Linked DNA regions of Homo sapiens: regions 2, 3 and 4 are each linked to region 1. The links come from fine-mapping of genetic effects on plasma protein levels. Region 1 holds a variant in brackets. A gene starts in each other region. All regions are shown on their reverse strands.

Region 1 (5,694 bases):
TAGGACCCTGAACTCCAGTGGAGAGGGGTGGCACGGTCCTGCCTGCCCCACCCCACCCCACCCCACCCCATACCTTGGCTATCCCCTGAAAGTTGAAAGTGAGCACGTATTCCCCACGCCGCGTCTCGCTCTGCCGCACCAGGAACACTCCATGAGCATCAGGGCCCTGCAGCTGAACCAGCTGAGCTGCTTTCACTCTGGAGATGGGGCCGTGGAACCAGGGGTAGCAGGACAGGAAATGGTCCGTCTTCTGGCAGGCCGGGTCCAGCAGCCCCCCAGGAGAAGCACCTGTTAGATAAGATGGGTGATGGTGGTCGCAGGGGGCTACCTTATGTCCTGGGCTGAGTCTGGGTTCCAGCGTACCCAGAAGACAATGGCCTAGCTATTGGTTTACCCACCTTGGTTAAGGGAATCTGTGCTGCCCCTTGGGGAGCTGGACGTGCTAGGCTCTAGGGCTGAGGGAATATGCATCTCTGCTTCTGTGCTCTCCAGCCTGCTGGAGAAGAGGCTGAGGTTAAGGATCTGGGCAGGTCAGGGGTGGTAGCAGCAAAGGTGGTGCCAGGGACGAGGGCCCAGGACCTCACCCTCGGCCTGTGCACTCCGAGAGCTCAGCCATCCATGAATTCAGCTGCTGCTCGTCTCCCACCTCAAAGATGATGTCTGTCCGGTCCTTCACCTGGCAGGGAGGAAGGGAACAGGGTTGGGTCTGCTGTATGTGTATGTATTTGTATTGCCCCAGGGTGTGAAAAGCCTTGTCACTCACCTTCAGCACAAAGGTGTAAAGGTTGTCAGGCATCTCAAGCCGTGTGCACC[A/G]CCGGACCTCCTGGATGCTGGAGCAAGCTGCTTGTAGCTTGGGCCTTGAACTCTACGAGACCAAGTTGGGGTACTCAAGGCTTGTTCCTGATGCTCTTTCTTCCAGCCAGGCCTGAGTTTGTCTATAGTCTCCCCAGGAGTCCCCCTTTTAGAGAGAGTATCCATGGTGTTGCTGGGCAGGCTCTGAGCCTGTAGTGAGGTCCAGGGTGCCTTCCCCTAGCCTCCTGAACACCATTCACACTGAGATCCCAAGAAGCATGTGCTGGCAGAAGGCCAGCCCTCCCAGCCCATTGGACCTGGACTTGGAGACATTCCCACTCTGCCATGTGTCTGACATCCGTTTCTCTTCCCACTGGTGAGCAAACAGCTCCCTGCCCAGCCAGGTGATAGCAGCTGCTGACGGTCTCATCACACCAAGCCCAAAGGGGCAGAGCCTAGCATGGCTAGCCTAAGTTATAGCCACTGTAAAACCACAAAATCTTGGCCCTGGACCTTCCCAGGACACCCGGCACATAGGGCTGCAGGGTGGATAGGAGTTAGCCACTGTTCCTTTGCCAGCAGGAAACCTGCTCCCAGGTCTCAACTGACCCTGCAGATGCTTCCTGTGCTGGGGCACTCTGCAGCCAAGGAGCCAGCTGCTTCCGGTTGGGAATCTGCTCAGGAGGGGGTTTGCCCCTCCCCTTCCTCTTGTGATAAGACTGAAAAGATGGCCGAAAGAAGAAAAGGGGAGAAAGAGATGAGATAAGGAATGGACAGAAGTGGCCCCACTGGGCCCCCTCCATTCAGGTGTTCCTGGAAAATACTACAACCCCTAACAAACTGGGAGCAGGGGGATGGAAAGCAGAGGCAGCCCAAAGGATGTTCTAGCAACTGTGGCTTCAGGTGATCTGACCTCCACCTCAGCCCAAAAGGGCATACCTTGGACTGGAGCTGCTAGTGCTGTTGAATTGACCCCCAAAACCAGATGCTTAACCTTGCTTTACACACAGAGCTGCCAGGTACCTCTGTCGGAAGGATCATGACCCAGTGGCCTGGCCACCTCCTTTATCCCCCTTCCCCACCTGCAGGAGAGTCAATGAACAGTGAGGTAAGAGGGCAGCCTGGCAGGAGCAGGATGGCCACCTGGGCCCTTCCAGCAGGTCTCCTGGGAGCTCCCGGGCCTGCTCTGGTTGGCGGACACAACAGGCTGGGGGAGAGTAATGACTGCAGGAATGACCAACACTGGCCACAGCTCACTGCGGCCTCTCACTAGAAAGCTGCATGACTAGAAAATTCCAGCCTGAAGTGACCAGCACCAGCCAGGGCATTTTCACCTCCTACTCCCAGAGGTCCAGCAGCCAGGATGAGGCAGGCAGAGTGAGGCCTCACATGGCATCCACACGGGCACTGGACACAGCGCAGTGTGCAGGGAGTGGGGCCTCTGCGCTCTTGCCCATTTTTACAGCCAGCCAGCCCTGCAGAGCCTTCATTTCCTGTCTGCAAGATGGGTAAGGTGCGAGTGGCCACTTCCTTCTGCTACTTTTCCAGTTGGCCCTGCCTGGCCCCCACCCTTCCCCCTAGCTGCAGGCCTTAAGGATCACTGGGAGGATATAGGCCAGGCCTGGAGGGGAACGGGCCTAGTCTCCCTTTCAGTTCCGCTCCAGGCCTAGTCCCCAGTGTCAGTGCTGAGATTAACCAGCAGAGCTGCCGGTTTCACTCTGACTCTGGCCCCTGCAAGCCAGCTCCACCCCCAGCAGCTGAAGAACTGCTGAGCAGGCAGGCAGTGGTGAAAAGAGGATTCCCCTCCTCACCCACAGCCAGCCTGGCTGCCACCTGCCTGCTGGCTGAGCACAACCCAGGGGTTCTTCCCCAACTCCCCACAGCAGCCCTTGAGAGCCGCCCAGGCCTAGAGCCACAATCTCAACCCAAGCCTGCCAAGTATCAGAGCCGGGGTCCGCCACAGCTACCTGGTGGTATGGGTGTCCTATGCCAGAGGCTCCAGCCAGGTTGCAGCGTGTGGGCACATGGGCGCAGGACAACCCCTGCTTCAGTCGAAACCTCAGCCTGGACAGCTCAGGCTCTGGCCACTGCAGGGAAGGACCACCAGATGCCCATCAGATTAAGCTATATGGGGGGATGGGTGAGAGGGGAGACAAGCTCAAACCTGGGGGCTGTGTCAGCAGCTGTGGGGGCTTTAGGTTCCCTCCTCTCACATGCCCGCTATTCCACCTCCCTCAAAAGTCAAGCCAGGCCAGCAACAGCTGCTCCCTGGACCTGCTTAGGCTCTACTGTGGTTGGGTGATCAAAGTGGCCAGATCATTTCAGGTATTTGTGGTTTGAACAGTAGACTGTCACCCACCACATCCTGCAGCGTCTATTTCTGGGGAGCAAGTCTTCTCCATTCCCAGCATCTAAACAGATGGCTTCTGTTTGTTATGGCCACTGTGGCTCCAGTGGGAATAATCTATTTCTTTCTTTGCTCTGGCTGCTAGGAATCTCAAAGTCAAAGACGTAGGCCAGCTCTGACACTACCCCAACGGTAGGACTTGTATTTATTTCAACAGCTAACTTTATCCCAGATGTTATAGTTCTTTTATCCTCTAGGGTTTTTTGTTTTTGTTTTTGTTTTTTGAGACAGATTCTCACTCTGTTGCCCATGCTGGAGTGCAGTGGCGCAATCTCGGCTCACTGCAACCTCCACCTCCTGAGTTCAAGCGATTCTCCTGCCTCAGCTTCCGCAGTAGCTGGGATTACAGGCACCTGCCACCACACCCAGCTAATTTTTGTATTTTTAGTAGAGCTGGGGTTTCACCATGTTGGTTGGCCAGGTTGGTCTCGAACTTCTGACATCAGGTGATCCGCCTGCCTTGGCCTCCCAAAGTGCTGGGATTTTAGGCATGAGCCACCACGCCGGGCCCTACCCTCTAGGTTTTAAGATTCAGCCCTGACCCTGCCACTTCCTATACAACCCTGGACAAAGGGTTCGGCTCTCCATGCCTTAGTTGTCATCTGTAATTCAGCTCATTTTTTCACAAGGTGAGCTAACACAAGCGAAAGGCATGACTCGCACAGCTGTTAACAGGCCGGTGAGTAAAGCCTGCTTGGCTCCCACTACACTACTGACAGCATGACAGTCCCCTCTGAGTAGCCTAGCCACTGGGTACACCCCCAGCTTCTCTCAGCCTTACAGAACTATTGCCCCATTTTGTCACATGCTCCCTTACCATCCTGCAATAAATTCCACGTAATATAACCAACATACTACCCTAACTAATTACAAGACAGGGACAACAAAGGACTGTCACTTAGCCGAAATAAAACGTGCTTCAGTGCAACTGTAGACAACACAACCAACTACTTGGCTGCTTCTGAGTTTGTTGTGAAAAGAAGGCTAAGAACATAAGGGAGCCAAAGGGCGGGGGAGCTAGGAAAGCCAGCCTGGTTCCAGATCCACCCAGGGTCCACATGGAAATGCAGTTCCAGGCTCCCTTCAAATGGCCCTGTGCTGTGATCAGTCCCCCTGCAAAGGTCTCTGAGCCACAGTCCCGTCATCTGAGAAGTGAAGATGAAACACCAGCCTCGTGGGGTCACGCAGCTCTCCCTGACTCCCGCCTACCTGAGGATCCCTCTTTATCCCACCTGGCTGTTCAGCCCGCCTGGAGGGAATGTGACGGGCTGGAGGCAACAGACCCTTCCTCTCTAGGCCTCACTTGCCCTCATGCTGTTACCTGGAAACTGTCTTGCTACCTACTGCCCCTTCTGTGTGCTGAGGGACAGGGGACCTGTCTTGGCACAAACATTTATAGGGCCAGGATGGTCCTTCTAGAGTCTTCCGAGGTACTGGGCCACACCCCACCCTGCCAGGTCCTCATAACCAGCTTGAGTGGGGTCTGTTACTGGCTTTGCCCTCAGGCATCCAGCAGAGACAGGCAAGTCGGGGCAGGGCAGGGCTGGACACACCAGTCAAAGGCCAGAGCTCTGGTGGCGTGACCACACCTACGTGGAGAGCAAGGCTGATGGCATGGCCTCCCCTGGTGAGAGAGCAGGAAGAGGCACAGGTGAGCCTGCCACAGCAGCCCCCAGAAGCCACCATGGGGCTTCAAGGCTGTGGGAATCAGCTTGAGCTTTTTCTAAGGTGGGGAAGCTCTTAACAGGAGCAGGCCTGCTGGCTGTCCCCCTCCTCCTGGGACGCTGGAGGGCAGGACACAGGGCAGCATCTGACACACCCCAGCAGCAAGGGCTTGGCCCAGACCAGCCTTGGGGAGAGACCGCCCACCCCCGGGAACCCCCAGGCCACACTAGCTCCCTGGTGGTCTTACCTTCCCCAGAGCCTTTGAGCCCACATTCATCGGTGTACAGCAGCAGTGGGACAGGCCTCAGTCGACCCTCCAGCACCAGCCACGCCTCTGCCACACCTATGCCCTCAAGGAGGCATCTGGCAGCCTGGGCCTAGCTCTGCAGGTGGTTAGAAGAGCCCTAGCTCTACCACTTACTTACCTTTGAAACCTTGGGCAGGACACTAACTGGAGGTTCAGTTTGCTTTCAGTAATAGGGGGCCCGTAAGCAGGTCCTGTTGACCTTCTTACTGGAGGAGGAGAGGGAGGGGGTCTGAAAAGGCGCAGAGCAAATTCCAGATCCTGTCCTGGATGGCTGATCCCTCACCCCAGCCCAGAACCTGAAGTGGATGCTGCCGGGATGGATGAATGAGCATTATTATGGAAAATACTTAATCCAAGCTTACTGTCTAGTATCAAAAAGTTAACCTACTTGGGAAGCTGAGGCAGGAGAATCACTTGAACCTGGGAGACAGAGGTTGCAGTGAGCTGAGATCACACCACTGTACTCTAGACTGGTCGACAGAGTGAGACCCTGTCTTAAAAAAAAAAAAATTCCTTGCCTTCT
Region 2 (5,763 bases), not on the chromosome of region 1:
TCGGCTAGGCCAGTCAGGGACGTGCAGTTTGTGTTAGAGCCGCTTCCCCGCCTCACTGCCAGCAGCTGTCCAGGCAGGCTGGGGCTGAGAGGGGAGCAACTGTGGGAAGCCCTGGCCTGTCACTAGCACCCAGGCCTGCTGGGGGCATCTTCATGCCTCAGGATCCAAAGGTCCCCAAGCCCCGATGCCAGCCAGGAGGCTGTGGTGTCCCCAGGGCTCTGGCATTGCTGCCTCTCTCCTTGGAATGGCTCAAAGGGTGCCTGCACTGTTTGACTCCAGCAACCCTGGCCCTTGGTGTCCCCAGCTCTGGTGGCTGTATCTCTGCTGGTGGAGGTTGTGTCCCAGGGCCATTTTCCTGCACACGGAAGTGCCTTTGGTGGCCTTCCCTTTTAGCTAAGGGAGGGGCCTCTGTGAAGGCAGGAATGCTGGGCTGGGGTCAGCTCGGCTGTGCACCAGCTGCTGCACCCTGGGTTTGCACTCGGCCTTCCTGGGCCTCGCTTTTCCCCACTGTAAAATGGGGCCAATGGGCCCACCTACTTCATTGGCTGTTGTGAAGCTTGCAGCAGAAAATGGCTTTAAAAGTGCTTTGTAAACCGTTACCCACTGAACAAAGGGAATGCTTGGTACCCACCGGCTCACTCAGACACTGGGAACTGAGTATTCCTGGGGTTCAAGGAGGTCCCCATACTGGGGTGAAGGGGCTACCTCCAAGTCTTCCTGACTGTGGCCTGTGTTGGGCCAGGGGACTTGCCTGGTGCCATCAGGAGCCTCACCCATGATGGGATTCAGTTGGGAGGGCCCTAGAGCAGGACACGGGTTCCCATACTCAGCTGGGAGCCGCCCTATCTCAATGAAGTCTGAGGCCAGAGGTGAGGAGCAGGTGGGGGGTTTAAGGGCCTGGTCCCTCCTTAGCAGGGTCCCTGAAGCCAGCCAGAGGTCTGTCTCAGGCCTCTTACTTTGGGACAGAAGGCATTTTGTACCTGTTGTTGTTACATGTGAGAAGAACCATGTGAACATGTGTGCACAGGTGCCATTGTCACATGTGTTGGGGAGATAATCCTGCCTTTGGAGGCCGCATTGTGCTCATGAAAGCACACACACACAGTTCTCACACACATGCGCACAGACTCCCACACACAGACTCACACACAGACTCACACACAGACTCACACATTCCCCCCACACAGTACTCACACACATGCCCAGAGACTCACACACAGACTCACACACAGACTCACACATTCCCCCATACACAGTTCTCACACACATGAACACAGACTCACACACAGACTCACACGCACAGACTCACACTTTCCCCCCCACAAAATACTCACACACATGCCCAGAGACTCACACACAGAGTCACACATTCCCCCCCCACACACAGTACTCACACACATGCCCAGAGACTCACACACAGACTCACACACAGACTCACACATTCCCCCCCACACAGTACTCACACACATGCCCAGAGACTCACACACAGACTCACACATTCCCCCCCAGACAGTACTCACACACATGCCCAGAGACTCACACACAGACTCACACACAGACTCACACATTCCCCTACACACAGTACTCACACACATGCCCAGAGACTCACACACAGACTCACACACAGAGTCACACATTACCCCCCAACACAGTTCTCACACACGTACACACAGACTCACACAGACACACATAGACTCACACATTCCCCCACACACAGTTCTCACACACATGCACACAGACACACACACATGCATTCCCCCACACTCACACCTGCACACCCGGTTTCCCTAGAAGGCTGCTGAGGCTCCCTGCTCAGGCAGGCAAGGCCTCCGGACCCTCTCCCTGCCAGCCTGGAAGCTGCTCGCATCCTCCTGTTTCCAGCCCAGAGTCACGCACCTCTGTCACCCTGCCAGACCTTCTAAATCCTCAGGAAGTGGGTCAGGCCTCATCCAGTTCACACCCCCAACCCCCACATTTCATAAATGGGGAGATCAAGGCCTGGAGAGGCTTGGGGACCTATCCGAGGTCACACAGGGTTGGGCTTACAACCCAGGGCTGGAGTGAGAGCAGGCCCAGCGTGTACTCATCCCAGCCGGCCTGGCTGGGCCCCTCTGGGACTGACCCAGGACTGGGCATGAGAGGGCCTAGGACTTCCGCTATGAGTCCTTGACATTTGCTCAGACATCGTCCTCAGAGGCGGCTCCACCCTGCCTCGGCCCACTGTCTGTCCAGAGCATCATCAGAGCTGCCTCGGAGACGGCGAGTTTCCATGTCTCTGGAGGCGACCAAGTAAAGGCTGGGCTGTCAGTGGGGGACCTCGCAGAGGGAGGCCTGAATGCTCTGCTAAAATCCAACTCAGCCTAGGAATCAAGTTGTCTGGGCCCCATCAAATGCGGGTCCCCCCTGCAGTCTCTCTTGCACTGGAAGGGTAAAGCAGGGTTCTCAACAGCGCATGAGAGAGGCAAGGTTGTGCTCCTGGCGGGTGGGACATGCAGGACAGAGGGCCAAGCTGCGGCTTAGTGGGGGCAGGCAGGGATCCCAGTGGCCCCAAATCTCCACAACGCTCCAGAGGGCTGACATGTGGATCCCAGAGTCAGCCTTGGGTAAAACTGGGAACTCCTTCCTTGCACTGGAGCGAGCCCGGGTGTTCGCAGGACACCTGGGAGGGGTACTCACCCAGCATCCCCAGCAGGTACAAGGTGGCCAGCGGTTGCAGAGACCCCATGGGCATGGTTTCTGGCCTTCTCTTGCCTCAGCCTGGGCAGCTGGGCACCGCAGGTGAGGGTGTCTGGCCGGGTATCTCGCTCTCAGAGAGGGAGAGGGCGGGGTGGCGTGCTCAGGGAGGGGTGGGACGGGGAGCAGGCAGTGTGGGGCCTGCGTCACCCATGTTTGAAGTTGAACTGTCAACTTCCTCCTGGCAAAACCACCTGCCCCTGTTTGAATGGCAGCCCTGGCCTCTGCCAGCTTCCTGCCCAAGGTACCCAGGGCTGGGGCAGTGCTCTCGGCCACCCCCACACAGGACAAGGCCATGCATCCTGGAGGGACAGGGCTGCAGGGGGTGGGGACCCTGAGCGGGGGTTACGGAGGCTGAAGGCCTGGCTGCAGCTGAGGGCTGGGCTGAGGACAGGCGTCCCTGAGGCAGGGGTCTGGGTGGGGAGAGGCGGGAAATGGGCAGCATGATGCCAGTTCTTGTTGCAGACTCCAGTGAAAGCCAAAACCAAACCCTCCATTCCCCCTTTGTGAGGGATGAGGTTGGAAGTTTGAGCTGACTTTCCACAGGTGGTGTTTTGCTAGCAAGTACAAGAGATGGCTGCGCCATGAATGCTGGGCTTGTGCCAGTGTGTGTGTGTGTGTGTGTGTGTGTGTGTGTGTGTGTGTGTAGAGAGAGAGAGATCTCCATGTTGACTTGTGTGATCTCTGTGTTGTGTGTGTCATCTCTGTGTTGTGTGATCTCCATGTTGAGGTGTATGTGTGAGCTCCATGTTGAGTGTGTGTGATCTCCATGTTGATGTGTGTGTGAACTCCATGTTGATGTGTGTGTAATCTCCATGTTGACGTGTGTGATTTCTGTGTTGTGTGTGATCTCCATGTTGATGTGTGTGATTGTGATCGCCATGTTGATGTGTGTGTGATCTCCATGTTGATGTGTGTGTGTGATCTCCATGTTGATATGTGTGTGTGATTTCCATGTTGTGTGTTTGTGATTTCCATGTTGATGTGTGTGTATGATCTCCATGTTGACTTGTGTGATCTCTGTGTTGTGTGTGTGATCTCCATGTTGGGGTTGATGTGTGTGTAATCCCCATTTGATATATGTGTGTGTGATCTCCATGTTTGTGTGTGTGAATGTGATCTCCATGTTGATGTGTGTGAATGTGATCTCCATGTTGACGTGTGTGTGTGATCTCCATGTTGATGTGTGTGTGTGATCTCCATGTTGATGTGTGTGAATGTGATCTCCATGTTGATGTGTGTGTAATCTCCATGTTGATGTGTGTGTGTGATCTCCATGTTGATGTGTGTTTGTGATCTCCATGTTGATGTGTGTGAATGTGATCTCCATGTTGATGTGTGTGTGATCTCCATGTTGATGTGTGTGTGTGATCTCCATGTGGATGAGTGTGTGATCTCCATGTTGATGTGTGTGTAATCTCCATGTTGATGTGTGTGTGTGATCTCCATGTTGTGTGTGTGTGATCTCCATGTTGATGTGTGCGAATGTGATCTCCATGTTGATGTGTGTGTAATCTCCATGTTGATGTGTGTGTGTGATCTCCATGTTGATGTGTGTGTGTGATCTCCATGTTGATGTGTGTGAATGTGATCTCCATGTTGATGTGTGTGTAATCTCCATGTTGATGTGTGTGTGTGATCTCCATGTTGATGTGTGTGTGATCTCCATGTTGATGTGTGTGTGATCTCCATGTTGATGTGTGTGAATGTGATCTCCATGTTGATGTGTGTGTAATCTCCATGTTGATGTGTGTGTGTGATCTCCATGTTGATGTGTGTTTGTGATCTCCATGTTGATGTGTGTGAATGTGATCTCCATGTTGATGTGTGTGTGTGATCTCCATGTTGATGTGTGTTTGTGATCTCCATGTTGATGTGTGTGAATGTGATCTCCATGTTGATGTGTGTGTAATCTCCATGTTGATGTGTGTGTGTGATCTCCATGTTGTGTGTGTGATCTCCATGTTGATGTGTGTGTGATCTCCATGTTGATGTGTGTGTGTGATCTCCATGTTTATGTGTGTGAATGTGATCTCCATGTTGATATGTGTGAATGTGATCTCCATGTTGTGTGTGTAATCTCCATGTTGATGTGTGTGTGTAATCTCCATGTTGTGTGTGTGTGATCTCCATGTTGATGTGTGTGAATGTGATCTCCATGTTGATGTGTGTGTGTGATCTCCATGTTGATGTGTGTGAGTGATCTCCATGTTGATGTGTGTGTGTGATCTCCATGTCGTGTGTGTGTGATCTCCATGTTGATGTATGTGTGATCTCCATGTTGATGTGTGTGTGATCTCCATGTTGATGTGTGTGTGTGATCTCCATGTTGTGTGTGTGTGATCTCCATGTTGATGTGTGTGTGATCTCCATGTTGATGTGTGTGTGTAATCTCCATGTTGTGTGTGTGTGATCTCCATGTTGATGTGTGTGAATGTGATCTCCATGTTGATGTGTGTGTGATCTCCATGTTGATGTGTGTGAGTGATCTCCATGTTGATGTGTGTGTGTGATCTCCATGTCGTGTGTGTGTGATCTCCATGTTGATGTGTGTGTGTGATCTCCATGTTGATGTGTGTGAATGTGATCTCCATGTTGACGAGTGTGTGTGATCTCCATGTTGATGTGTGTGTGATCTCCATGTTGATGTGTGTGTGATCTCCATGTTGATGTGTGTGTATGATCTCCATGTTGACATGTGTGATCTCTGTGCTGTGTGTGTGATCTCCATGTTGGGGTTGATGTGTGTGTAATCCCCATTTGATATATGTGTGTGTGATCTCCATGTTTGTGTTGTGAATGTGATCTCCATGTAGATGTGTGTGAATGTGATCTCCATGTTGATGTGTGTGTAATCTCCATGTTGATGTGTGAATTTGATCTCCATGTTGATGTGTGTTTGTGATCTCCATGTTGATGTGTGTGAATGTGATCTCCATGTTGATGTGTGTGAATGTGATCTCCATGTTGATATGTGTGAATCTCCATGTTGATGTGTGTGTGTGATCTCCATGTTGATGTGTGCGAATG
Region 3 (5,763 bases), not on the chromosome of region 1:
TTTGTGTAGCCATAGATGATCTTTAATTCTGAAAACCTCTCCTGTCTCCAATTCTGAGGTCATAATCCACCTGTCTCTTCAGGCATCTTTCTGTTGAGGTTTAGTTTTGCAGTCACTAAAAGATGCCTTTGTCCTGTTTTTCTGCCCTGCAGATTTTCAGGTTCTGAACACAAGCCCAGTTTCTGCTTCTGATGATCATTTTCAATAGAGCATAAAAAACAGAGCCATGTTCCACGTTTTTACGGCCTCTGCACTTGGCAAAATATTCTTCCCGAATGGCCTCACGTGTGCTCCCTATCATCACGCCTTTTCAGCTAGGCAACGCTCAGAGTCACACCTGAGTGGAGGCCGACGCCCCTTTGGAGGCGACTCCAGCCATAAAAAGTCCTGCTTGGAGCTGGTTTTAGCCACAGAGGGCCAATAAATGGCCCCTTCTGAATGAGGTGCCCCTGCACCTCTGCAGAGCCTGCTGCCAGCCTCCAGGATCTAACTGGGCTCTGATTCACCGCTCCCAACCCCACATCCAGGTAAGTGTGCCCAGCTCTTGTCTCTGCTTCCACCTCAAGATCTGAGTCTCCACTCCCCAGAACCCGGCAGGTTCTGCCTGACAAGGACCTGCAGTCCTCTGCCAGCTGCCACACCCTTGCCAAGGTGTGACTTGGAGTCCTGGAGCCACCTTCGGAGATGTGAAAATTAGCTCCTACTTTTAGCTAAAGCGTTTGGAAAGAAAAGCTTGATCTTTAGCTTTGACCTGGTCTTTAAAAAAACCCTTCAAGGGGAACATCACACACCAGGGCCTGTCGGGGGGGTCGGGGCTGGGGGAGGGATAGCATTAGGAGAAATACCTAATGTAAATGATGTGTTGATGGGTGCAGCAAACCAACATGGCACAGGTATACCTATGTATCAAACCTGCACATTGTGCACATGTACCCTAGAACTTAAAGTATAAAAAAAACCCACAAAAAACCCTTCACATGATTTACTTTCAGAATTGGTGGTTTCCCTTTGTGCGGCGCTGGAATCAATCTTGTTTCTCCTTATTACTTGCGGTGCATTCTGCTTCCTCTAACTTTCAAAAAATTAGTGTTAAACTCTTTTTTTTTTTTTTGAGACAAAATCTCACTCTGTCATCCAGACTGGAGTGCAATGGTGCAATCTCAGCTCACTGCAACCTCCACCTCCAGGGTTCAAGCAATTCTCCTGCCTCAGCCTCCCAAGTAGCTGGGATTACAGGTGCGCACCACCACACCTAATTTTTGTATTTTAGTAGGGGCTGGTCTCGAACCCCTTCCATTGTGATCCACCTGCCTCGGCCTCCCAAAGTGCTGGGATTACAGGCATGCACCACTGAGCCCAGCCTAGTCTTGAACTCTTGATGAGGGAATCCCTGACCCCTCTGTGTTTTCACTTTGGGATTTCTTCCTGTTTATTAAATGAATGACCTTGGTACTTTTTGGAGAAAATGACAAAAAGGAGCATCAAGGCTCCAGATGTATGGGAGCTGCAGAACTGAAACTGCCGTGGGCTTTTGGGGGTAGATTTGGGGTCTTGGGGGTAGATTTGAGTGGGACTGGGGAGGAGTGGGGTGCAATCGAGTCTTTAGACCATGCATGTGACATGGAGGTCCCTGGTGTAGCCTCCCATGTCTGCATTTCTAATTGGCTTGGATGAGGCATCCCAATAGTTACTTCTAAGAATAGTCATGGCTAATATTTATCAAGAGCTTTCTATGTGGCAGGTACTTTGCATGTGTTTTTCCTTTAATTCTGACAATGGACCCTCTGTGGTGGGTGCTTTTATTATCCACATTTTCAGATGAGGAAACTGAAGTATAGAGAGTTGAAACAACTTGGTCGAGGCCCCACTGCTACAGTGCTAAGGCCAGCTACAAAGCGAGGTCTGACTCTGACCGTCCTGGGTACAGGAGCCTTGTCTGCTCCACTTGTCCCTTGGAGCGTTGTTCTTGCTGGTCCTCTTCACACCCCAGCTCTTGTCTCCTACCTCCTGCCCCCTCTACTGTCCTGTCCCCGCATCCCTGATTTCCCCCCTAAAACATATATTTTATTATAGCTACTTTTTACTCTCTGTCTAATGGGTTGCCCCACAGTCCACAATCACATTTTGAGGAAGGAGAACTTCCCAGAGTTCATGAACAGATTTTGGAGTGCCTCTTTGCGGTGCTTGTTTCCAAAACCAACATGCTGTGGACCTTTCAAAGACACAGTACACACAAACACACACACACCCTCCCTCCAACACAAATAAACCCACATGCGGCCGGGCATGGTGGCTCACGCCTGTAATTCCAGCACTTTGGGAGGCCGAGGTGGGCGGATCACCTGAGGTCAGGAGTTCGAGAGCAGCCTGACCAACATGGTGAAACCCCATTTCTACTAAAAATACAAAAAATCAGTGGGGCATGGTGGCGCACGCCTGCAATCCCAGCTACTCGGGAGGCTGAGGCAGGAGAACTGCTTGAACCCGGGAGGCGGAGGCTGCAGTGAGCTGAGATTGCGCCATTGCACTCCAGCTTGGGCAACAAGAGTGAAACTCTGTCTACAAAAAAAAAAAAAAAAAAAAAAAAACAAACCCCACATGCACATAAACCGAAACACACACGAACACACAAACACCCACATGAACATGCGCACAAGCCCCCCACATCAAACTCAGATGCACACAGCAAGCATGCATGTAAGCCACACACTTGCCACTCTGGCTGCCTCAGCACTGCAGAGCCCCTCTCCCCGGCCTCTAGTTGGATCCCTGGTGCACACTGGAGGGAAATAAAACCTACCCCAACAGGAAGTGAAACAGTTGGTGAGCTTTTCCGGTGCTCTGCACAGATGCTGGGGCGCTGAGCAAACAGCCCTCAGTTTCTGGAGCTGTTCCGAGGTAACTGGGGTCCTTTGGGAGCTGTGGGATGATGAGGTTCAGGAGGTAGCTGGGAAGTCCGGAGCTTGGGCTTGATCCACCTGCACCTCTCCCTGTCTCCATCTGAGCTGGGTCTGAGACTCTCAGTGGAGGAGTAACAGGCTTTCTCCCAACAGGCTTTTGAAAATGGGCCCAAGGGCATTTACTCAGGACCACAGATGCATGTGGCCTACTCCACTGTCACCAGGCTGGAGTGTGGTGGCACGATCTCGGCTCTCTGCAACTTCTGCCTCTCGAGTTCAAGCCATTCTTGTGCCTCAGCCTCCCTAATAGCTGTGATTACAGGCACCCACCACCACGCCCGGCTAATTTTTGTATTTTTAGTAGAGACGGGGTTTCACCGTGTTGGCCAGGCTGGTCTTGAACGACTGACGTCAGGTGATCTGCCTGCCTCGGCCTTCCAAAGGGCTGGGATCACAGGCAGAGCCACCACACCCAGCCTCCTTTCTTCTTAGTCTGGAAGCAAACTACTTTATGAAGTTTTCATGCATCCTCTTTTAAAAGTAAAAGGAAAATCTTGTGGAGGAGAGAAGATGAAGTAGATATAGCAATAAATTGTGAATAAGGATTGTTTTTACTAGTATTCAACCAGGCAGGTCTTGACCACCATTAGATAAACTTCTGTCTGGCAGCCTGGAAAAGTTCACAGTTGCTGGGACACAAATGCTTTTGGGGTCCTTCTTGGAGAGGATGGAGTTGAAGATTTGGGAGCTTGATGGCCTTTGTTATGTGTCACCAGGGAGACAGGGACAAGGGGCGGGGCTGTTGATGGAGAATGTGGCATGGGGTAGGTGGGATGGTGACATAGAAGTCACCGTGCTCCTGCCCTAGAGATTTTAGTAGCAGGCAAACACCGTGGTCAAAAAAGAGAGTCAAGGACTTAATGAAGTTAAAGGGGTTCTGCTGACGTCCAGCACTCTGATTTTGGGGGTACAGCTTCTGCCATAACTGCATATTGCTGATACTAGTTCCTTCTTAAAATTTTCTTTGCTATCTGATGTACTACAGAATAACTGAGCTGGGAAGAATCTTGGATATTAAAATGATTTAATGAGTAGCAAACTTTCCATTTTTGTCATATCCTTGCACCTCTATTTACTTAATATTTTTCTTTAACTTAAAAATTTTTCAACAAAAACAATAATAGTTACGATATCATGGGTTTGATGTGCTAATACATGTTTTAAAATTACCTATCTGTCAACATAACCCCTATCCATTTGTGAGCCACCTAAGATTGTATTTATGCCACTGATGATATTCATGCTGCACTTGGAAAACCACTGATCTTGTCCAAGTTACCTTTTTTGTAGGTGAGGACACTGAGATCTGGAGACGTTAGTGATTTGCCCAAGGTTGCACAGTTAGAATGATACTAATTTGAGGCTGTTCCTAAGGTCTCCTAATTTACAGTCTTGACATGTTCCAGTATGCTGTATCATACTTTCAAGTGTAGAGAAACAATCGTTTTATTTTCATTTTAAAAATTTTATTTACGTATTTATTTTTGAGACAGAGTCTTGCTCTGTCACCCAGGCTGGAGTGCAGTGGTGCAATCTAGGCTCACTGAAACCTCCGCCTCCCAGGTTCAAGAACTTCTCATGCCTCAGCCTCATGAATAGCTGGGACTACAGGTTCAATACACCACGCCTGGCTAATTTTTGTATTTTGGTTTTGCTATGTTGCCCAGGCTGGTATCGAACTCCTGGGCACCAGTGATCTGCCCACCTCAGCCTCCCAAAGTGCTGGGATTATAGGCATGAGCCACTGCCCCTTCTTAAATGTAATTCAAATAGATAACCCAGGTAAAGGAGCAGCATAGAGCCTTGTGTGAGGAGATGCTGAATACATTTCCTTCCTTCAGTCCCTGCTCGTTGCCACCCTGAACTGGCTGCTCTCTGCAAGTTTTGATAATCCTTTCTAATGCTAATGCTCTGAAATACCAAGATGCTGTACCTTGGTGTGGCCACAGAATGATTGACTGTGCTGTGCAAGGTACTCAATCTAAAGACTGTCAGTTCTGGGGCAATTTCTTGTATTCCTTATTGGCTTATTTCCTTCACCTGTTTTTTTTTTCTTTTTCCTTCTGAAATGTCTGTTATTTGGGTGTTGGATTTCTTCAACCAATAATCATCTCATTTTCTTTTCTCCTATTTTGCTTTACTTTTAAAAATATTTTCTTTAACTTCATTTTTAATATTGCTAGTAAATTTTTAAACATTCGGCTTTGCTGTTTTTAATTTCTGAAAGTTCTTTCTAATTCTCATTTTTTTAATCACCTCCTGTTCCTGTTTTACACACACAATGTTTTATGTCTTTAAGGATGTTAATTACAGTTCTTTCAGGTTTTTCTTTTATTTCCTGTGTTGCTTTGTTTCCTCTCAGTTCCTTATCTCTGTGTGTTTTGTTTTGGTTTCTTTCTCAGTTTGAAGCATGTCTTATGATCTTGTGCTCTGGTTATATTTGTTATTTATTTATTTATTTTAACTTTAATCCATTTTATTTGAGTCTCTCTCTCTATATATATGTGTGTGTGTGTGTGTGTTTTTTTTTTTTTTGAGGTGGAGTCTTGCTCTGTTGCCGGGCTGGAGTGCAGTGGCACGAACTCGGCTCACTGCAACCTCTGCCCTCTGGGTTCAAGCAAGTTTCCTGCCTCAGCCTCCCAAGTAGCTGGGATTACAGGCACACGCCACATGGCTAGTTTTTGTATTTTTAGTAGAGACAGGGTTTTGCCATGTTGGCCAGGCTGGTCTTGAACTCCTGACCTTGTGATCCACCTGCCTCGGCCTCCCTAAGTGCTGGGATTACAGGCATGAGCCACCATGC
Region 4 (5,763 bases), not on the chromosome of region 1:
CGGAAGAAAGCTGAAGCAAGCTCTGAAAACCCAGAGGATACAGAATATGCAGACACTGGAAGGAGAGAGGCTGCTTGGTGCAGGTCATGGGGGTTCTCTGCTTAGACCTCCATCAGCCAAGCACTTGCACCTTGTGGAGAGGCAGCTATGGAGCATGCAGGGCTAGGGATCCTGGACATGAGAAGGTTGGGTCAGGTGGATTCTTTAGGCAGATTCAGGCTGAGTTGATGTGAGGTTGGTTTGAGGTTTTCTAAAAGAGAGCTCTTCCCATCTGGAAGAGACTGCTTACGATTGCTATGTGTGCATTAGGTACTTTATGTAAATTATCTCATTTAATTCTCATAACTATACTATAATTAGCCCCTTTTTACAGATGAGGAGCTGAAATTTAGAGAATTTAATCCACTTCCCTGAGATTACAGGGTTGATCAGTCACAGAGTCCAGATCCTATGTCCATGATGCCCCTGGAGTAGGGAGGCCAGGAGTACTGCCCATCTGTATCCTGGAAGCCCAGGAGCTGCTGGGTCTTGACTGGGTGCATATGACTCGTTTTGACTTCAAATTTTCTTACATCAGACAAAAACCATAAACAAAAGCCTCACAGACTCTCAGTGGAGGGGGCAGGATGTGGGCCTCACAGGGCAAATCTTGTTGCAGAAGACAGTGCAATGCAGCTCCCAGTACAATGACAGGTCCCCAGTACCAGTCATTTTATTTTGAATTGCACCGTAGGACAAATAATAAAAGAGCATTCAAAGATTGCAAAACTGAATTTGACTCACCTGTCTCTTAATAGTTTCCAAAGAATGCACGTAACAGTAATTATAATAATAACAATCATAGCTTCTGCCAACTATGTGCCACTATACGTGTGTGTGTGTGTGTGTGTGTGTGTGTATAGATCATCTACAATCTGTAAGAGTGTTGCATGATGCATCCTACTAACTATATTTTACACTTAAGAAATAGAGGCCCTCATCACTAATAAATGATGGAGCAATGATTTAATTTCAGATGTTCCTGATACTAAAGTGAGAGGGGTCTTTTCACTCGACTGCCTTTTAAGTTCCTGAAATGACTCTTTGGAGATACAAAAGCATCATCCTTTCAGACCAAAAGAGTGAGATTTGAGGTCATCCTAATCAGTGGAGCCAGACCAATGGAGATGCCTCTTTGCTCTGAACTGTTTGAAATTCACTGCATTGATCATTTGCGGCTTGGATGACCTTGAATGTAGCTTATTTCAGGTTTGCTCAACACAATCAAGGAACACCCCAAAGGTTGGAGGTAAACATAAACAGCCTTGCTGCTTTCTGTGTGTTTTGATGAGCCAAGATAAAATTGAAAGTGAAAAGAGGTCAGACTGGACCTCAGCTCTGAGGTCTAGGCTCCTCGTTCACCCATATCTGCATCTAGGAGTGTTTCTAAAGCTCCCTTCAGGCACCAACTGCCAACCCCCACTGCTCTCAGATCTCTAGTGCTACCTGCACCATCATCCCTGAAGCCCTGGAGAAAGCGGGAGCACAGAAGGACAGTAGCTGCCACAGTCCCAGGTGGCTGAGATCCTCTCTGGGGTACTGGATTGGCTCTATCTGCTGGACAGTGGGGTTCCGGGCCATGCAGCGGAGAGATGTTTCCCAGGAGTTGGGCCTTGATAGGGAGGAATAAGGTTGAGGAGAAAAGGATATCCAGATAAACGCCACCTTGCCCATGGTCACCTAACCGCGTCCAGGTCCCCAGTGAAACCTCAGTAATAAAGCCAGCATATATGATAACCAAGGCAGGATACATAGAAAGAAGCTCCAGAAGTTCTCTCCATCCCTAGGAAATTGCTAGGTGGCTTCTCATCAGGGGATTTTCCTGGATCCCTCTGTGGGTTTTATCCACACCATACAGGGAACAAACTCATTATATACTTGGCATTTCTTAGGAAAATGTGAGGGCAAGAGAAATGTAGTTTGAGCCCAGAGCTATTTGAGACCGGGGCTAGAATGTTACCCCCTTCATAGTGCACGAATATGCACACATGCAAAGTAATTTCTGGCAAGGAGATGAGTTTCCCGATTTTACCAACAAGAACTGGGCTCACGCCTGTAATCCCAGCACTTCAGGTGGCTGAGCTGGGCAGATCACGAGGTCAAGAGATCGAGACCACCGTGGCCAACATAGTGAAACCCTGCCCCTACTAAAAATACAAAGATTAGCTGGGTGTGTTGGCATGCACCTGTAATCCCAGCTACTCAAGAGGCTGAGGTAGGAGAATCGCTTGAACCCAGGAGGTGGAGGTTGCAGTGAGCCGAGATTGCGCCACTTCACTCCAGCCTGGCAACAGAGTGAGACTCCGTTAAAAAAAACAAAAAACAAAAAAAAGAATCTCCCAGGCAGGGAATGCAACTGGCCTCAGAAGAACCGCAGTAGCAAGAAGTGGTGGCCATAAAGTGGACTTACCCATGAGCAGGAAGAGGAGAGAGGTCTGTAGAACAGAAGAGAATATTTGCAGCTGACTCCTCTGTGGCTTACTGGAGAAAGGCCCAGGAGCCCAGTCATCTGTGTGACTCTTTGGTGCCACCATGATGATCTATTTTCAGAACTGAGACTGAAGGAGGATGCACTTACCACAGCTTCCGCACGTGTCACAGCTTCTGCATGTGTATATGAGTGTGTGTGTGCATGTGTATGTGTATGTGTGTGTGTCTCAGAGGGAGGGTTGTTTATACAAAACACCACAGACTCCTCCCATCTGCGCAGGCAGGTAGAGGTCCCAAGTCTATTCAGGGCCTCATTTGTGACTGATGTGGAGCATCACTTGCTTTGACATCAAGGGACTTGGGTTCTAAATTTGGCTCCTAAAGGTGACTGCTAAAGATCTGTACCTCCTGGCATTCATGCCTCTGTGTAATCACCTCTTCTTTAGTGTGGCCTGGATTTAGTGACTTGCTTCAAGTGAATAGAATGTGGCAGAGATGTGGGATGGGTCACTTCTGAGATTAGGTTACAAAAAAGCTGTGACTTCCATCTTGGGTTAGCATGTGTGTGCATATGCGCTCTCTCTTTCTCTTGCCCTCTCTCCCTCTCTGTCTTTCCCACTATCTCTGTCTCCCTACCTTACACTGAGGGGAGCCAGGTATTGTTTTGTGAGATACTTTAGGGAGAGGGTTCCAAAACAAAGAACAGAGGGAGGCCCCCAGCCAACAATCGGCGAGGAGCTGATTCCTCTGGCCAACTGTCCATGAGGACTGAGGCTAGCCAAGAATCACATGAGTGAGACTGGAAGTGGATCCTCCCCAGGAGGTCCTTGAAATGACTGCAGCCCTGGCTGACACCGTGATGTTAGTTGTGTGAGTACCTTAAGCCAGAGGCACCCAGCTAAGCCATGCCCAGATTCCTTATCAAGAGAAACTGTGAGATAATAAATGTTTGGTTTTTAAATTTTTTTTCAATTTTTTATTTTTCATCAAAAATGCTTATTGTTTTTAGCTGTGAAGTTTGGGGCAATTTGTTACACAGCAACAGATAACTAATACAGTGACCCAATACATTTTCTATTTTGCTCAAGGCAGTTTGTGCTAGCTTTCTGTCACATGCAATGAAGGACTTTTAATATGGACAAAGGCATCAGGGAGACTGCAATGGGGGTGGACATCGTATGTGACAGCGTAGAGGTGACTGAGTTGAAAAGGTAGGCTGGAGAATGGCATGATTCCCTATATCCTGACTTGGGAAACTGTCTTTTTCTCCTCCTTCTTCTTGTCAGTAGCGTAATAGCTGGCCATGCTATGGTTTGTGTTTCGGGCTTCAGGTCATTTGTTTACTTAGGCTGTAACATTAAGGGGACTTGGCAGGAAAACTTGAGGCTGGCAGAATGTGTAGTTTTAGCTAATATTCGATGAAAGCTTACAGAGTGCTAGTCCATCTTCTGACACTTTAACATATTCACTCATTTGATCTTACAATAGTTTTATGAGATATCTTTTATCATCCCCATTCTATAAATGAGAAAACTGAGGTGGAGAGGGGTTAAATAGCTTACTATAAGTTTTATAGTTAGTAAGGACTTGAACCCAGGAAGTCTGGGTTCAAAGGAAGAAGGGAGAGAGAGAGAGAAACCATTAAGATAACAGGCTTATGTCCATGGAAAGCATCTTTAGAGGCTGGTCATGATCTGATGTTGCACAATATTGAAAGTGACAGAATCTCGAAAATCTTTAAATTTTGTGCACTAGGAGCGTGTCTTGTTTCACTCTAGCCTTGGTCCTGTGACTAGAACATGGGCTGTCTAGAGGGGATTGCAGGACATACGGTCAGGAGAGGTTACCAGAGCCCAGATAAAGCATCCTGTTACCAAGCTAAAGGCAACAAGAATCCAGTAGGAGTAGGAAGCTTCCTGGAGCTGCAGAGTGGAGGGAGAATGGGTGGAAGGGATGAGCCTGGGGATGAGAAGACAGGTGCGGAAGCTATTGAAGGAGTCTGGGTACAGAACATGAGAGCAGGAACAGTCTGCATGGGAGGCGAGGGCAAAGGCAGAAGGGAATTCAGAGAGATTGGTAATAATAAAAATCATTACTAACATTTATTGGGTAATTACTATGAGTGAGCCTCTGTGTTTAGAACTTTACATATGTTTTCTCCTTTAATCCTAAGATAGACCCTATTTGGATGATACTCCAATTATCCCCATTTTAGAGATGAGAAAACTGAGATTTAGGAAAGTAACATCACTGAAATGACCTCCTTTGAAGTTGTGACCATAGGAGGACACAGCCTTATAATACACAAAATCCAATTTAAGTATTATCATTTAAGTATAGTAAAACCTAAATTAATATAAATTTTGGTATGATGCATTTGTTAAGTGTGCCCTGTCCTCACATGGGGAGGGCTAATATTCTCATCAGGACAGGGAGGCAAAGGCACTAGCATTGGGAATCAGGGAGCAACATCCAGTGATGCTGGCCCCGGCGTCTCCAGTGTTGTCCTTCTCAGTATACTTCAACCACCCCAGCAAGTGGGTGTGACTGACTGGAAAATTTTTGAAATCCCTGCTACTGTCCTTGGAGTCCCGCCAGCTACAGGCCCAGAATCACCCCTGTCAACTGGGCATTGCCTCCAGGTAGCATCAGACTCCAGCCTGGGTTGAGATTTGGGTCTGGCAGCCACAACCACATACTCAGCTGTGTTGCTTCACCACCAGCCCCCAACCAACACTTCATTCACTGTGCAATTAAGACGACCCTGCATTTTACACAATTGCATTTTTTGGACTTTATTTCTAATGTTGTCTTGACTTGCAGTATATATATGCTACTACAGATTGGAAGAATATGAAAGACTGTAGAATTTTGACAAGCTCAAAGCTTTTTACACTTAGATGGAAAGACAAATATATGTTAGGAGCTAAAGAAATTCAACATCAAATCAACTGCTGCAGCCACAGTAGAGGGAAGAATTAGGGAATGTCACAGTGTTCAAGTGGAATCTAGGGATATAGGCTATGAGACCAGCCTTTTAGAGGGTAGCAACAAAACAAGCAAAAAGTGGTGCTGCCAGCTGGGCACATTGGCTCACGCCTGTAATCTCAGCACTTTGGGAGGCCGAGGTGGGCAGATCACGTGAGGTCAGGAGCTCAGGACCAGCCTGACCAATATGGAGAAACCCTGTCTCTATTAAAAATACAAAATTATTGGGAGGCGGAGGCGGGCGGATCACGATGTCAGGAGATCGAGACCATCCTGGCTAACATGGTGAAACCCCGTCTCTACTAA

Alleles and levels. Alleles are on the strand shown, and positions count from the first base shown. The strength of an association depends on the size of the effect and on how common the allele is.
For the plasma level of the protein whose gene starts at base 2,803 in region 2, G is the low allele of the variant in region 1 and A is the other (moderate association).
In carriers of allele A in region 1, the plasma level of the protein whose gene starts at base 2,819 in region 3 tends to be higher than with G alone (moderate association).
For the plasma level of the protein whose gene starts at base 2,587 in region 4, allele G in region 1 goes with a lower level than allele A (moderate association).

Evidence for each region. PIP is the posterior inclusion probability: the model's chance that the variant is causal. The UK Biobank Pharma Proteomics Project read protein levels with antibody pairs (Olink). The fine-mapping took linkage between variants from a reference panel, not from the people measured, so its PIPs are less certain.
Region 2: CD5 starts here. The variant in region 1 is fine-mapped to the plasma level of the CD5 protein (UK Biobank, PIP 0.95).
Region 3: ADA2 starts here. The variant in region 1 is fine-mapped to the plasma level of the ADA2 protein (UK Biobank, PIP 0.91).
Region 4: LY9 starts here. The variant in region 1 is fine-mapped to the plasma level of the LY9 protein (UK Biobank, PIP 0.93).

Annotation. Positions count from the first base shown.
Region 1 is chr12:111,441,924-111,447,617 of GRCh38, reverse strand. SH2B3 (SH2B adaptor protein 3) reads right to left here. Exons shown (of 8, transcript NM_005475.3): 3 at 764-865; 4 at 585-676; 5 at 399-493; 6 at 74-288. It overlaps LOC124903019 (a long non-coding RNA gene), which reads left to right and starts at 2,873. Exons shown (of 2, transcript XR_007063462.1): 1 at 2,873-5,694. RefSeq lists enhancers at 2,214-2,483, 3,234-3,353 and a silencer at 4,789-4,975. The variant A/G (reference allele first, on the strand shown) is at 814.
Region 2 is chr11:61,099,529-61,105,291 of GRCh38, reverse strand. CD5 (CD5 molecule) reads right to left here and starts at 2,803. Exons shown (of 11, transcript NM_014207.4): 1 at 2,677-2,803. The coding sequence starts at 2,731.
Region 3 is chr22:17,216,491-17,222,253 of GRCh38, reverse strand. ADA2 (adenosine deaminase 2) reads left to right here and starts at 2,819. Exons shown (of 10, transcript NM_001282225.2): 1 at 2,819-2,898. RefSeq lists enhancers at 3,032-3,161, 3,172-3,241, 3,082-3,442.
Region 4 is chr1:160,792,998-160,798,760 of GRCh38, reverse strand. LY9 (lymphocyte antigen 9) reads right to left here and starts at 2,587. Exons shown (of 10, transcript NM_002348.4): 1 at 2,450-2,587. The coding sequence starts at 2,573.